Homo sapiens: one gene and its partner. The protein of the gene in region 2 interacts with the protein of the main gene of each other region in a pairwise test. Each region holds a gene or a part of one and is shown on either strand. Other genes may lie near its edges.

What was found. Proteins that work in one complex are often made in the same cells at the same time.
Region 1: the proteins of COL1A2 (region 2) and LOX interact in a two-hybrid assay, tested with the Homo sapiens proteins (one study listed by IntAct).

Annotation. Positions count from the first base shown.
Region 1 is NC_000005.10:122,075,260-122,083,159, forward strand, and holds the start of LOX (protein-lysine 6-oxidase isoform 1 preproprotein), read right to left. Parts: upstream 3,001-7,900; 5' UTR 2,727-3,000; coding exon 2,096-2,726; exon of another isoform or gene 1,743-2,095; coding exon 1,634-1,742; exon of another isoform or gene 283-1,633; coding exon 145-282; exon of another isoform or gene 67-144; coding exon of another isoform or gene 56-66; intron 1-55. UniProt on the Homo sapiens protein: Responsible for the post-translational oxidative deamination of peptidyl lysine residues in precursors to fibrous collagen and elastin. Regulator of Ras expression. May play a role in tumor suppression. Plays a role in the aortic wall architecture.
Region 2 is NC_000007.14:94,397,503-94,404,894, forward strand, and holds part of COL1A2 (collagen alpha-2(I) chain precursor), read left to right. Parts: intron 1-245; coding exon 246-256; intron 257-879; coding exon 880-894; intron 895-1,546; coding exon 1,547-1,582; intron 1,583-2,693; coding exon 2,694-2,786; intron 2,787-4,064; coding exon 4,065-4,118; intron 4,119-7,053; coding exon 7,054-7,098; intron 7,099-7,190; coding exon 7,191-7,244; intron 7,245-7,336; coding exon 7,337-7,390; intron 7,391-7,392. UniProt on the Homo sapiens protein: Type I collagen is a member of group I collagen (fibrillar forming collagen).

The sequences.
Region 1 (7,900 bases), on a different chromosome or scaffold from region 2:
GAAATTACATAGAGAAAAATTCTAAATATAAGTAATAGCAATTTTCTCCCTTCAGGTAAGAAATAAGACTTGCATTTGTGATATCAAAAATCACCTGAGAAATGAAAAGCAACCCAAAAGTACCCAGGAGGCCCATTTACTTACTGATGACAACTGTGCCATTCCCAGGAATATCTTGGTCGGCTGGGTAAGAAATCTGATGTCCCTTGGTTTTTCACTCTTTGGGGAAATCTGAGCAGCACCCTGTGATCATAATCTCTGACATCTGCCCTGTATGCTGTACTGTGATTTTGAAAAAAGAAAAATTATTATATTCATGGAATATTAACTAAAGACAAAACTACAAATAAAACATCCATTATATAGTAGTGACAATCCTCCTTTCCCAACTAGACTATCAGTTCCAAGAGTCTAAGGCATTTTGTTTCTTTTTGTTCATTGCTGAATCCAAAGCTCCTAGAACCGTCTTGGAGTAGTCAGAGCTCAATGAATATTTGGTGAATAAGTGAATGAATAACACCTATGGAAATCCACAGATCTTAACAGTAAAAACATAATAAGCATTAAAAATCTAAATGTCAGAAGTAAACTTTAGAATCAATTCAAGTTTGATCATATGAATGAGTGAAACTGAAGTGGAAATAATCCCCCAATAAAAAAAATAATTCATAGATGTTTATTACAAACTTCAAACTTAACAAAACTTTTAAAAAAGTTAATGAGCTGCAAACTGAGGAAATAACTCTAAAAGAGCATACCCAGATTTAAATTAATAATTTTGTAACTTCACTATCCCAAAACAATGGCAGTACTGTAAAAACATCATAGGGAGTTCAATGGTGTGAGTGATGCAAGACTCAGGAATGAAAATGAGCTTGGATTTCTTCACTTCCTTTAGCCTGACAATTATAAAGGGTCAAAGTGGAAGAAATGTACAAATAAACATCACTGTGTTCCTACTAATATATTTAGTGTGTCTATATGTTCAGGTGGTATTGATGACCTTATTTTACACTTTAAATTTTTATTAAAACATCTTTTGCTCCCTCTGCTGTTTCCCAGCAGTAAACCCAGAGAACCCCAATCCCAGAGTTACTATTTTATTTTAGAATAGTGGAAAAACAAAGCTCTTGCTCACGGTCTTATTCTGGCTGAAGTAATACCAAAACAACCAAGTTCATCGTGGTCTCAAACAAAAGAGGAAAACTTAGTCTTTACCAATGAGGCTACGATGGCAAATTTGCCCCGAATCTTTTAAGGGGGTATTAACACACCCTTCCATTACAATAAATTTTTTGAATTACTGTATAGTTGTTTTATGAAAAGTGATTGGAACAATTGACTCCCAAGTTTAAGTATCTTGGAAAAAGAGCATGAGACTTTCAGTCTCCAGGATAAGGGTTTCCTCCACCTCTGTGATTCCTGCTGCACTTTGAGACAGAACCCACAGAAATCTTCAAAAATATTAACTCTCCGTCCAGGTCAGCATGCCCAGGAGGTCACGTCCCACTTCCCAGCTCTTGTCCCACTTCCTAACACTTGTCTGCGCGAAGCAGTAGCAGTCAGAACCAGGCACCAGAGCGCCCCCTGAAGGTAGACCGGGGAGCGGGGCCTCAGACATATCAGCCCGTACCTGGCCAGACAGTTTTCCTCCGCCGCGCATCTCAGGTTGTACATGGACATCTTCTGCACGTACGTGGACGCCTGGATGTAGTAGGGGTCGGCCACCAGGTCTGGGAGACCTAAACGTCAGCAGGCGACGGGCGCAGCAGTGAAACAACCCGGCGCCCCCCGCTCCAACTCCCTACCCCTCTAGGTCCCTTACTCCTCACCCTTCGCCCACCGGGACTGCAGAGTGGAGCGGAGGACAGCAAGAGAACTGGGGACGCCCGGGACTGCAAAGCAATGTGAAAAGGAAGCAGGAGGGGCCAGACGCGCGGTTTGCACTGGATTCCAGGGCTGCCACTGCAGGCGCGTGGGGGAGGGATCGGATCTGCGAGGACCGGGGCCCGCCGCGCCCAGGCAGCCACGTCGAGAAGCCACATAGCTGGGGACCAGGTGCACGGGTGCTTCCAGCGGACTTGGGGGTACTTACCGTACTGGAAGTAGCCAGTGCCGTATCCGGGCCGGTACCTGCCCCCAGGTCTGGGCCTTTCATAAGTATCGTAGTAGTTGTAATAAGGGTTGTCGTCAGAGTACTTGTAGGGGTTGTAAGGGTCGTCGCCCACCATGCCGTCCACGCGGCTGGGCGGCCGCAGGTTACTGAGCGCAGGAACTTCTCCCGGCGCTGTCTGGTTCTCCGCGCGCGAGGCGCCAGCTTCGCGGGCTCTAGATGTCGAGTAGCCAGCTTGGAACCAGTGACGGGCGGTGGGCCTGGGGCGGCCAGCGGTGACTCCAGATGAGCCGGCCGTCCGCGTTCGCGCCGCGGCGGTGCGGTTGTCGCGGATCAGCAGGATCGGAGTGCGGGGCTGCTGGGCGGAGGCGTTGGCTGCACCAGGGACGGCGGCGCCCGGGTCCCGGCGGCGCTGAGGCTGGTACTGTGAGCCCAGGCTCAGCAAGCTGAACACCTGCCCGTTGTTCTCCCATTGGATCTGCTGGCGCCAGGCGCCCGGAGCCGCCGGCGGCTCGCGCGGGGGCTGCTGTTGGCCGGCGGCGGGAGGGGCGCAGTGCACTAGCGCGCAGAGCTGCAAAGGCCCGAGCAGGAGCACGGTCCAGGCGAAGCGCATCACTCCTTTTGCCAGATTGACCCCGCTCGAGGAGGACGTGGCTCACAGAAAATAAAAACGGGGCTCAAATCACGTGAGGGAAGGAGAAATCTTCAACCAAGGAGGCGAGCGGAGCACGGGTATCTCAGTCTCCACCAAGCAATGCCAAGGGTGGGATTCAGACCCTTCCCCAGTCAAGGCGGCTGCTCGGACGTGGCACCCTTCCCTTTCCCCTTTCTCAGTCCTGGAAGGCAACGGGGAGCGGCGCGGCAGTCCCGGAGAGCGGGCAGTGTCTGGAGTGAAGGAAGGAGGAGAGATTTTAAACTTTCTGGCACGTTTGCAAAGTTACACAAGCCGTTCTGGCCCGGCCGCCCCTCAGCTATTTGTTCACGTAATGCGATTGGAAACGTGCAAGGCGGACAGCTCCTCGCCTCTGCCCCTCCCTCTCTCCCGTCCCTGCCCTCCTCCCCCCAGACACGTTGCACAGGGAGCGTTAAGGGGAAAGAACAAAACGGAACACACATCCTGAGACACACTGGCTTAATCTGGGGCGAACATGCAGGAATTTCAAAAAACTCAGACAGGCGAAGGCAGCCAGGCCATGGGGCGACGCCAAAATATGCACGAAGAAAAATGCTATTAGGTCACCAGCCCTTGAGAGGCGGGAAGTCGGGAGGTTGGGAGGGTGCTGGGGGTGAGAGGGGGGCGGGGGAGGATTGTGACTAAAGTTTATCCATAAAAGAGTTAACCAGACACATTTCCCAACGCACACTCTCTCGCTTTTATGGGAAGCGCCCTCAGCAAATAAACCCCAGGATATCAAATTTTGTTTTTCTGTGTGTAGGTAATATGAGAAATGGGTTACAAATTTATTTCCTACAGTGAATATTTTAATAACCAAAAGTGAAATTGTACAGGGAACAAAGCCAGCTAACGCTGCAGCTATGAATAAACCTGTCTCTTTTTCAAAATGCCGGCCTGATTTGTACTTTGAGTAGAAGTGGAGAACCATCTTTCATCTCCACAGTGTCTACAAGGAAGATTCATTAAAGACTAGAACAAGTCTGCATGAGAAAGCACTCAGAAGGCATCTTCACATATGCATTTTATAAGACATTTTTCTCCTTCATCTTATAAAGAAGTTTGACTTTGGATTTAAAAAAAAATTAAATCACCTCTGTTAAATACTGAAAGTCAGTAAAACATCGCATGCTGTTTAATTTATCTTCCAATCTAAACAAAGAAGTTGCTGAAGAAACAGCCTTAGAGTTTAGATTTTGGTAAAGAGAAGGAAGTAGGAGTGGTCAGAAAAGAATATAGGTGGGGGATAAATTATGCTGACTGGAAAGAGATACATAATGGACGAGTTATTCATATACCACTCAGGGTTTGGGCAGTGCTAGAAACTTTGCAACAAAAAATGGTTACTAAATGGTCTGATTTAACACTACTACTCAAAACCAGATTTTGGTAACCATTTTATTGGTCTCATCATTGGGCTATTGTCCAGACATACTTCAATATTCACATACCTCTGTTAGTCTCTGTCTCTCCATATTTAATCACCACATTTTGGTGGTGTGGTGGACCTCTGCTGATTTTGACTGCCTCACATCCATTTTCCTTTTCTTTCTAGTAAGAACAACCGGATTTTCCTTTGAGGGGCTTCCCACCCACCCCACTCAGTTGCATAGTGGAAGGACTGAGCATTTATGAGACTTACCCACTTCAAGAAGTGGTCATGAGATCCAGGTTTGGCCAATCAAGCCATCTCTCTAGATGGTTTAATTTTATCTGGGATCTGAATCTTGAGCAGAAGGACACTGTCAAAAATGTTGCTCCTCAAACTACTAAAGAAAGTGCCCAGGCCTGGCGCAGTGGCTCACACCTGTAATCCTAGCACTTTGGGAGGCCAAGGCGGGCGGATCATTATCATTCGAGGTCAGGAGTTCGAGACCAGCCTGGCCAACATGGCAAAACCCCATCTCTACTAAAAATACAAACAAACAAACAAACAAACAAAAAATTAGCTGGGCATGGTGGCACATGTCTGTAATCCCAAACTACTCTGGAGGCTGAGGCTGGAGAATTGCTTGAGCCCGGAGAATTCCTTAAGCCCAGGAGGCAGAGGTTACAGTGAGCGGAGATCCACCACTGCACTCCAACTTGGGCAACAGAGTGAGACTCCATCTAAAAAACAAACAAACAAATGAAAAAGTGCCCATTATGTCTTGCTACATGGATCCGTCCCCTGCCCCGTCACCCAAGCTACTTTAGGTGAGTACATTCTAAGACCTGGTTCTTCAGCATTTCCTTCTTTCTTTCTTACTCCCCGACCCACCCCCCCATCCCCCCCATACATTCCTTTGTGACTGAACATGGTCAGAGTCAATTTCTGTTGTTTTCCACCTAAGAAGGCTGACTGACACTGAGCAGGGTGTGGCTGCTTCTGTCACCTAATCAGTTCACATTATTCTCAGTTCAGGGTGATGGGTTTGGTTCAGTTTGAGTCAAGTTAGATTTCCCCTGCCCATGACTGCACAGCATCCTTGGTCACAGGGAAATATCACATGGAAGCTCGCCAATGTGTTGGCAAATCTATTACTTACATGATAATTTGCACTTGAAGATGAACATTCAAATGCAATTCCCACTGATGGCAAGTCAACAGTGACATCTCACTCTCCCTATAAGGGTCAGAGACATCCCTAGCTGTCATTTTACAGACTTGCTGCAGTGCTTAAAATTAAACTACTCAACTCCTCCAAACCCACTAAGAAAGATGGAGTGAAAAAGAAGAAACAGGTGTATAGATTATAATTTCAATGGACAGGCCAAATTACAGGAGAAGCAGGAAACGAAAGAATGTAATTATCCCTCATCTGAAAAAGGCTCTGCATGTGCCCATGAACAGCTTATTCCCTAGACTAGAGAAGTCTGAAACTGCTATTACTTGACCACAGGTTCCTGAGGGAAGACCTCTGCTATGCCAGACATAGTGTCAGAATGGCAGACCAAAGCAGCACCCCTAATGGGAGGGTAGAAAGTTTACACTGGATCCCAGATAAAATGCCCTGTTTCCAATCCTAGTGCTCCAATAAAAAAAAAAAAAGCTGTGTCTCTTTGGACAGTTTGTTTACTATCTCTGGCTTTTGTTATATTTAGGATTCAAGGATTAACCAAATTCTTTCTAAAGTATTTTTCCTAGTTTTAAAATCTCTGATTTTTGTGAATATTCAAGTTATTCCAATTACTTTCGATTCATTGATAATAATGTGTTCATTATGATTATTAATATTTAATCAAATTTTTTTAGTTGGAGTTTAAAACATTGGATGCATTTTGTGTGAGTTAGAATCTGCAGACTGCAATTTTCTTATTCTACATATTTTCCAATAGTGAAAGTCAATACATATTTATTTGTTTTACAAACATTTCTTGAACACATATATATGTTCCGAAGTGTAGTATACCATAATGGTGACTTGCACACGTGAGCACTAAAAGTTTAGAGCTGAATGAAGTTGATCCTTTTTTCCAGATTTGCTCCAACAGACTTTAAAATTCTTATCAGAGTATAAATAACTGACTAGAGCAGTAATGATGTGCAATATTTATTTTCTTAAAACATGTACACACTACCAAAAGAGAAAAACACACTACCCTTTGTCACACATGCTAATGAAAAGCTTAGTTGATTTTCACTCTCCTTCATTTCCTCTAAAATCTCTCTGGCTTAGGACTCTGTCAGCTGAAAAACAAACATGTGGCTACCACATTTGGGGACAATACAGTGTTTGCAAGCCCTGCGGGAGATAATCTAGCCACACATTGTGTTCCCTGTTCAATAACAAAACTATTATTCACAAAATTGGAGAAACCATAGTTCCTTTCCACTCAAATCTGAGATGATAATGATGATGACAATAATAATAATAAGCCACGGCTACATCAAGATACAAACAGCTTTTTTTGCTTTGATAAGATCCACAGCTGATTTCACTTTTGACCATGAGATTTTCTTCTCGTGAACAATTCTGCAGTATGTGCCATAAGAGAAGGGAAGGAATGTTGCTAATTCTTTTTTTGAGTTTCTAGCCCATCAATATCAAATCTTTAAATGGCAATGTCTGGCCCATTGGCCAAGAAATGAAAGTTGTTGTAATGCTATGTTCCTGGTATTTGTTAAATACATTTATTTTTGTAGGACATTTCACATAAATGGAAAACAGAAAGCCGAAACCATAAAGCAGGGCCTCTGAATTGCAGAAGCCAGAACAGTAATGCCACATTCAAAGCAATCAGGTTCAAGTGTAAATTCTTTTGTTTGAGGCTCAAGAAGCTCATACAAAGCTTGTTTTTTGGTAAAGAGTAATGGTTGTATGTGCTTTGGTTCCATGTGGTTTGAAAACAAAACAGCACAGAGAATAAAATTTAAAAAGTGGAAAGTTGGAGATGTGTAAGGGGAAAATGATTGAGAAAACAGAATACCATATAACACAAAGGAGAATACACTCTGAGTGTTGAATTAGGACATTGAGGATACTTAAAAAGTAATTAAGAAATGTAACAGAGTGAAATACAGAACTAGAAATCTTTTTACTTGGAGTGAAATGGAGGAGAGGAGTAAGTTAGCCTTAAAGTTAACAGTGTGCTTGTGTTCCCTTCTACTACTTATCCTAGCCTTCTGCCACATACCACTTCCAGGTATTCACCCAAATATAAAAAGTAGACAGTTGGGTACACACTTGTCTGTGTGTCAAGACCAAACTGAAAAAAAAAAAGTATAAACAAACTGAGTAGAAGAATTCCAGAAATAATAACTTTTAAATGTATCTGGCTTGGTTACCCATTCCTTTGGGCCACCTAAGGAATGGAAAAGTGGAGTTTAACTCTAAGGAATAGAAAAGTATTTCATTCTGGTGTCCTTAATGCATGTTCACGTGTGATGAAGTAAAGAATGTTAGTTACTGAAACAAAATGGGAAAATGAGAAGAGGTGATATGATAGGAGAATGGGTCTTTGAAGTACAGGGGATCAGAGTTCAAAGTAATTAGTTCTATTAACAATAAAAATAAGGGTTCACCGGGAGGCGAAGCTTGCAGTGAGCCGAGATTGCGCCACTGCACTCCAGCCTGGGTGACAGAGCCAGACTCCGTCTCAAAAAAAAAAAAAAAAAAAAAAAAAAGGGTTCA
Region 2 (7,392 bases):
AATTAATAATTTAATTCAAAATACATTTACATATTAATATTGCAAACAAATCACCCTGCTGATCCCTGCCATACTTTTGACCTGCATAATTTCTAGGTCATTAAAATATTCTTAAAAAAATATAATTGGTCCTTAATTAGGTAATTCAATTCTATAAACTTGTTTCTCTATTTGTTAATTATTGCTATTGATCCATGAAGTGATACTAATAATTGTTTCCTACTTTTTCTTTTTTTTTTCTACAGCTTTACAAGAGGTGAGTAAAACTTTTTTTAGAATTTTTAAAAATACTTTGATTCCCTTGGCTACAGTGATGTCTTCTCTTGGAAGGGAAGAAGTTACATTAATATTGACCATCCTAGATTCCCAAGAAAATTGTGAAGAATTATGATAGTCAAAACCTTTCTGGCTGCCTTAGAAAGTACCCACCCAATTTTCCAAAATAGGCGGGGCTACTGAATAAGACTAGGTTTATAAAATATTCATAAGAAATATAGAGTAAATAATCCAATAGAAGTTTGAGTTTTAGGATCAGCTTCTATGAAGCAGAAGATTTCACTGAGCTAGAGAATCTTTTCACTCCTTTGGAATTATTTGCAAAAGCACTTATTGTTAACACATTCTTAGCTCATGAGTTGAATTTGAGGCATAAGTACAGGTACGTATTGCTATGTATTTTTTGTTCTGTAGGTACATATTTTTATTTGACATGTTGGTAAAATTTTAAATTGTAGTTTGAAATATTAAACTGAGATAATAGTAAATGCATAATGTAATGAATTGTGAAGGTATATTTGTATACTACACCAAAATGGAAGCTGTTTTTAAATATATATATACAATTTTCTTCATAATAATCTTTGATTTATTCTTTTCTAGGAAACTGTAAGAAAGGTAAGAGTACACTACTTCTCCATAAATATCTAAAATTATCAGGGATAACATAATTTAACTAAATTTATAGTAGACTATAGAAGGAAAATACTTTATCAAAATTTTGTTCATATGAATATACATTAGCTAAAGCATAAAATAAAGTAGCTTTGATGTTTAAGATAACAAAGTTTAATTATCTTCTGGAATCATCTGTAATTACATTTATGTGATACAAACTGGTGATTTACATACAAAAGGAAAAAAAAAGACTTGTTTTTATTCTGGAGATGGAAGGCATATTATGTTAATTATAGGGAGTAAAAAAAGTTTATTTTAAAGGGCTTTGACTATATAAATGTGCTGTTAAAAATGTAACAAAATGATCATTTAATCTACAGTTATCATCTTATTCAAAATGCTATGCATAGTATTGACCTAATAGCTGAAGACTATAGCAGCTTCCAATCCTCCAGCTGAAAAAAAATTACGTATAATTACAATTAAAATATATACTTTTATCTATTGCATTGTGTCAATTTTTTATATGCTATCTAATAACATTGTAGTTACATCAGTCTTACCAACTAATTATTATCAAGAATGATTTGTTTGTTCACTGGAAATTACTTCTTAGGCATTTATTATTGTCCTGTTTGTATCTTTCCTGTAGGGCCCAGCCGGAGATAGAGGACCACGTGGAGAAAGGGTGTGTAATTTTTGAACTATAAAGGGCTTCGTCCCGTATTTGAATAACTATATGTTAGAAACTACAGGAACTGGCAATTTATAAGAATATTATGTATCCAGATAATTGTACACCCCTTTAAACAGGTAATGCACTGCAGAAGAAGCGAATGAGCATTATTATATATGATCAATATTTGTTTTAGGTCAAAATTACCGTTAAAAAAGAAAAACTGTTACAGTCATATTCTTTGCATGGTCTACTTTCTTTATTTGTAATTGACCCATCCAACACATGCATAATGGAAATATATCTACCTACCACCACAGTCCTCTTTTTAACACATTTCATTTGCTTTTGAACTAAGATCCCTTAGGTAGCTTGGAAATAATAGTGAATTAGTAGTCAGTAACATGTTTCTCTGCTCAAATTCATGCATGTACAAGTCAGGCTTACATTTTATTTGTGGCATTCTTAAATCTCCCTGCTATGCTTATTTGACATTTATAACTATGTGGTTTTGCATTGTATAACACTTTTGCCAATATATGAATACCTATATCTTATATCTATTAGGAAGAGGAGACTTACATGTATTTCACTCAATTTATTAGAAATAGAATTAAATCAGTTAATTATTTTAACAATACAAGTAGTTAATGATAGTAAATCTGCAGGATTTTCTCTCCTATGATAAAGTGACCTTATTAACTGTCACATCAGTTAATTCATTCACATGTAACATACCAAAACAATTGAATCAGTTTGTCACAGTCAGAGATCGGCAATAAAAATACGATGTAAGTCCTTGTGCACTGTTAAACATATGAAGCACGTGGAACCATACATTTTGGCTATAATTTTTATATTTGAATACTGGAGCTTCAGTATGAATTAATATTCAATGGCCGAGATAGTTCTTTAGGAAAACTACCCTGTGATATCTTAAGAGTTATTAACCCTCTTTCTAAAATAGACTCATAAGTGAATTTCAATCAATGACAAATATAGTATATTAAATTTCCACCCTACTTGCACATAGAAAGGTCTGAACAACTGATCTTACCACATATAATTCTTAGGTTTCTACAGGGCCTGTCTAACCTGACCTTACTCACTTTTTACATAACAGGGTCCACCAGGCCCCCCAGGCAGAGATGGTGAAGATGGTCCCACAGGCCCTCCTGGTCCACCTGGTCCTCCTGGCCCCCCTGGTCTCGGTGGGGTAAGGTGTCTTACGTATTGCTAACTTTTAGCTAACTTCAGTTGAAAGAAGGTTTATTGTGGAATTTATTTTTAGCAGTTAAGGGATAATTCTTCCATTTGAAAATTAGTATATTTTATTTCATTTATTTGGTTTTTTCACTCAAGATTCTGCTTTACCCATTCTCTTTGTGAGCCCTTGTCAATTACAGGACTGGTCTTTGTGTGCACTGAAGTTAGCTGTGGCCATCATTACCATTATTTAATTTGGAGATTTAATATCTTTTATTAGTAAGGCACAAATAAGAGGTGTTGCATTATTAAGGATTTTGATTAGATTGAACTGTGTAAGTGAAATCCCTGATCTTAAGCAATTTTACAAACATCCTACGCTTTTTATTCTCCTTGACTTGAAGTCTGCTGAACCAACATTCAAAGCGGTTTTAGGTTTAATTTGCTTGAAACTAATTTGAGAAAAGTACATTTCCCTTTTTCATTAATATCTTCTTTTAGCTTCATGTCTTTAACAATGGTATGAGTGCCAAATGACCTCACTGCAGGAAGGAAAACATATTTGCTTAATTGGTTAGCACTATGAATCAGAAGCCTGATTCTAATACCCAACTGTATGTCAGTAAAATAAGACCTTTCTCCCCCAAAGATCTTATTATGATTGCTTATCTATGAATTGCATTAAAAAGCAGCTTCTTTAATAGAGCTACCACTATAAGAGAGATCTTTAACAGTAAAGTTATTACTGTGAACTAGTTTTTAGAAGTTTTATCTTCCAAGGGGTATTTTAATTTAATTTTCCTCTAAACTTGAAAACTCTTTATGCCCTTCCTGAAACTCCAGCAAGAAAAAGATCTCTTAGTCATTTTGTGTAGCTCCGGTGGGGAAGGGCAACAGGTGAAAATGTGAAGATGTCCTCTTGAGCTCTGTCTAATTTGTCAGGAGCCCTTAGTAACATTAAAAGTTTAGAAAGCTTCCCTTCCTCAGAGTAGAGGTAAAAGGTGGGAGTGGAGACACCGAGTTAAGGCAGAGGAAGGGCTCAAAAAGTAAAGTAGGGAAGTTCTCCATTTCAAAGAGGTGTCGGCCAAGTTTTTGACGTACAGCTCTCATAACTTTTTAGGAATTTAGTTCAATATAGAATTTTAAACTAATAATTATATCAAAAACATTGCCCTCTTTTAAATAACAACAGAAAAATATTTACAAGTAGAATGAGAAAATGAACTACATGACTAGTAACTAAAAATATTTTATATATATATATAATTTTTTTTTTTTACTTCTCTAGAACTTTGCTGCTCAGTATGATGGAAAAGGAGTTGGACTTGGCCCTGGACCAATGGTATGCTTATCTGTTTATCTTAGCCAAAAAAATTGCTAAATAAATCATTCATTTTATGTCACATTTTACCACGCCATTTATTTAGCTACCTAAGTTAACACTCAATACTTAGATTATATAAAAACAACTCTTTTTGTTTTCAAATTTATGAAAACATAAGTTAAGGAGTTCACTTTTCTTTACAAAAGAAAGATTAATTGATCTTTTATGATTATATGATCTTTTTGATTATATGATCCTCATTAAGATAGATCATATACTTATGTCCAAGAAATAATCTTTGGACATAGTAACCATAACTTGGGCAAATCAATTTAATTTAAAACAGTAATCACTCTGATTAATTTTTTAATATTCTTTAACATTGCTTAGAATTTTAAGCAACACTTAGAGGCATAGAACTATTTATTAAGTTCTCTGAACTTGTTGGAAAGGATCAACAAGTTCTATCTAGTCCAGCTAACTCATTTTAAAATGGGAGAGTTTAAGCCCTTTTCTCAAAGTCATCCAGGTAACTAATGACATAACTAGAACTAGATGCCAGGCAAGATGTCTAATATTTGCTTACATCATGGTTTATGTACCTAGTCCTTGAATAAACCACTCATTTAGTCAACAGATATTAATCAGATGCCTTCAATGGGCCCTAAACTGTATTAGGAACTGGGGAAATTACAAGGAATATGACAGATTCTGATCCTTCCTCAAGGAGTTAACAATATAGGAAATGTTTCTTTTTCTGAATTTTGACCAAAAAAATCCTTTTTTAGTCTATTGATTGTAAATCTATATAGAAGAGAGTATGAGTAAAAATCTAGCATTTATGTCACTCAGTACAAATATTCAGCACCATACCCTATCAGTGGAGCACCGCTTAGAAACATTCCCTATATGATGATGATGATGATGATGACTATTAACAAATGAAGCTTCTAACAAGCATTAGAGAGAAGTTTGAAGGGAAAAATGCTAATACGAGCATGCAAAATGTATACTAGCATATATGAAATAGAGGGGAAAACTGCCAGAAGTCAAAGTGTTAGGTTGATTAAGCACTACAGAATTTAATGTATACACACACACGCAATTTAGTGATTTTAATTAATTGTTTCAAAACAAAGGTATTTATCTGCCCAAAGTCAACAAGGTCTTTAAAATGTAAATTTTACCTGGGCAGTGCACTTAGTGCTCTATCTTCAAAAGAAGATGTTCTGCTGGAGCTAATGGCCCACAGTAAGCTAATATACTCTAAGGGTGAGATAATATTTTCTGTAAATTAAAACTCCCACTTGAGAAATAATGTACCTTTAATTGACGACTTCTAATTCCCTAATTTTTTCTGGTAGTTTAAAATGTTCATATCTGAAATGAAAAAGTAGAGTGTTTCTTTTGGCTTTGTTTATATTGGATTTTTGAAATTAGCTGTTTCAGCTAATGCTGGACATTAGTCAGTTTTAAAGCAGTACCTACATCTCAAGAAGAAGCAAGGGGGCGGAAAGTAAAGAGCTACTAAATGTCATTTTTAAAAAGCCCACTAAGCTGGGAAAATTAATATGGATTTCAGATACCCCTGTTTTCGGAACATCTGTCTTGGCATAAAGCAGAGTATTTTACTTTGAAATATCAGTGAAATATAATTTAAGCTTGCACATCCACACACATGCACAGACATATGTAATCAACAGATATCTGTTTCACAAATAGGGAAGATAGGCAGCAATAAAGTATTAAAATAATTTCCATGTTGGAAAATCAATAACTATAAAACCCCACAGGGTTCTTCTCTGAATTAATGAGTAATCACAGCCTCCATGAAATACACTACATTTTATGTAAATGAAATTGTTGCAAATACATGAAAAAATAAATATAATTAGAAATTCATGATGTCAAAGAAAATTATTTTTTAATGTATGCCTAAAAAGCTATTGTGATGGAAAAGTGACAGTTTCTTTTAATGTCAGAGCAATTTCTAAAACCAAATGAATAATTCTTATAATTAAAATGACATACATTTTAGATAAAATCCATGTTATTTCACTCTAGGCATTAATACAGTAAGGTAGGTTTGACTGCAGAGTCCCCACAGCTGATGTCATGAACAAATTACTTGAGACTGGTACATGAAATATTTTCAGCATTATGAGGAACAGACCCTACGGATGAGCTTACACAGGCACTGATTACTGCAAAGAGGAGTCAAGAAAGTGTATTTAGCTTACAAACTATTAACAGCCTGTTTTACCCTACTTTTGTGCTATGGAAACAACAAAGGGGAAAACAATCTTCCATCATTTGGGCCATATTTTCAACAATAATATCATATAATAGACTCTTCCAGAAGGCTGTTTCAATAATGTTTTATTTTTCCTTCACCCCTCATTACATCCACTTTTGTTTGACATTTTCATCAGTCACCAATAACCCTTAGAGGAGCGATAAGGTTATAACAAACTTCTCTCTAATCATTAAGAAGGACTTTTGATTCTTTTCAATTTATGTCCTTTGTGGCAATAAAAATACCAATTTCTTAGCTAAATATGACATAGGAAGATGACATATGATCAAAGATATCCAAATGGACATGCTTCATCTGCTGTATAGAAGACAATTGTATATTCTGCACTTCTGCAAAGACTGATTCACTTCATTGCATCAGAACAATCTCAATATGCCCAATTGTGCACAACTTTAAGGAACCTATCTGCCCCGTCTAATTCTCATTGATTTCTGTTGATAAGGATTGGGAGAAAAGGAAAAGCAAAGGGAGAGAACTAGTGCAGGAAGTTTGAGTCCTTAAATTCTTCCTTGGGAGGAATAAAAACTATGGAATCAAACCACAACAATGGCACTGCTAAGTTGGTCATATCTGACCCCAGCCAACACCATGACAACTTATCAGTGCTAACTGTTGATATATCTGCTTTCTTTACAGGGCTTAATGGGACCTAGAGGCCCACCTGGTGCAGCTGGAGCCCCAGTAAGTACTGAAAGCTTGTAATGCCTCTTATGTAAAAAGACAGAGAATTAAGAAATAAAGGCTTGGAGTATGACATTCTTTTTTTCTTTTAGGGCCCTCAAGGTTTCCAAGGACCTGCTGGTGAGCCTGGTGAACCTGGTCAAACTGTGAGTACATTTTTCCACCTTTGTGATAAGTTTTTTTCCAGGAAGTTTATGAATATAACCTTAGTGAAATGATGGGTCTCCCATTTTCTTAGGGTCCTGCAGGTGCTCGTGGTCCAGCTGGCCCTCCTGGCAAGGCTGGTGAAGATGT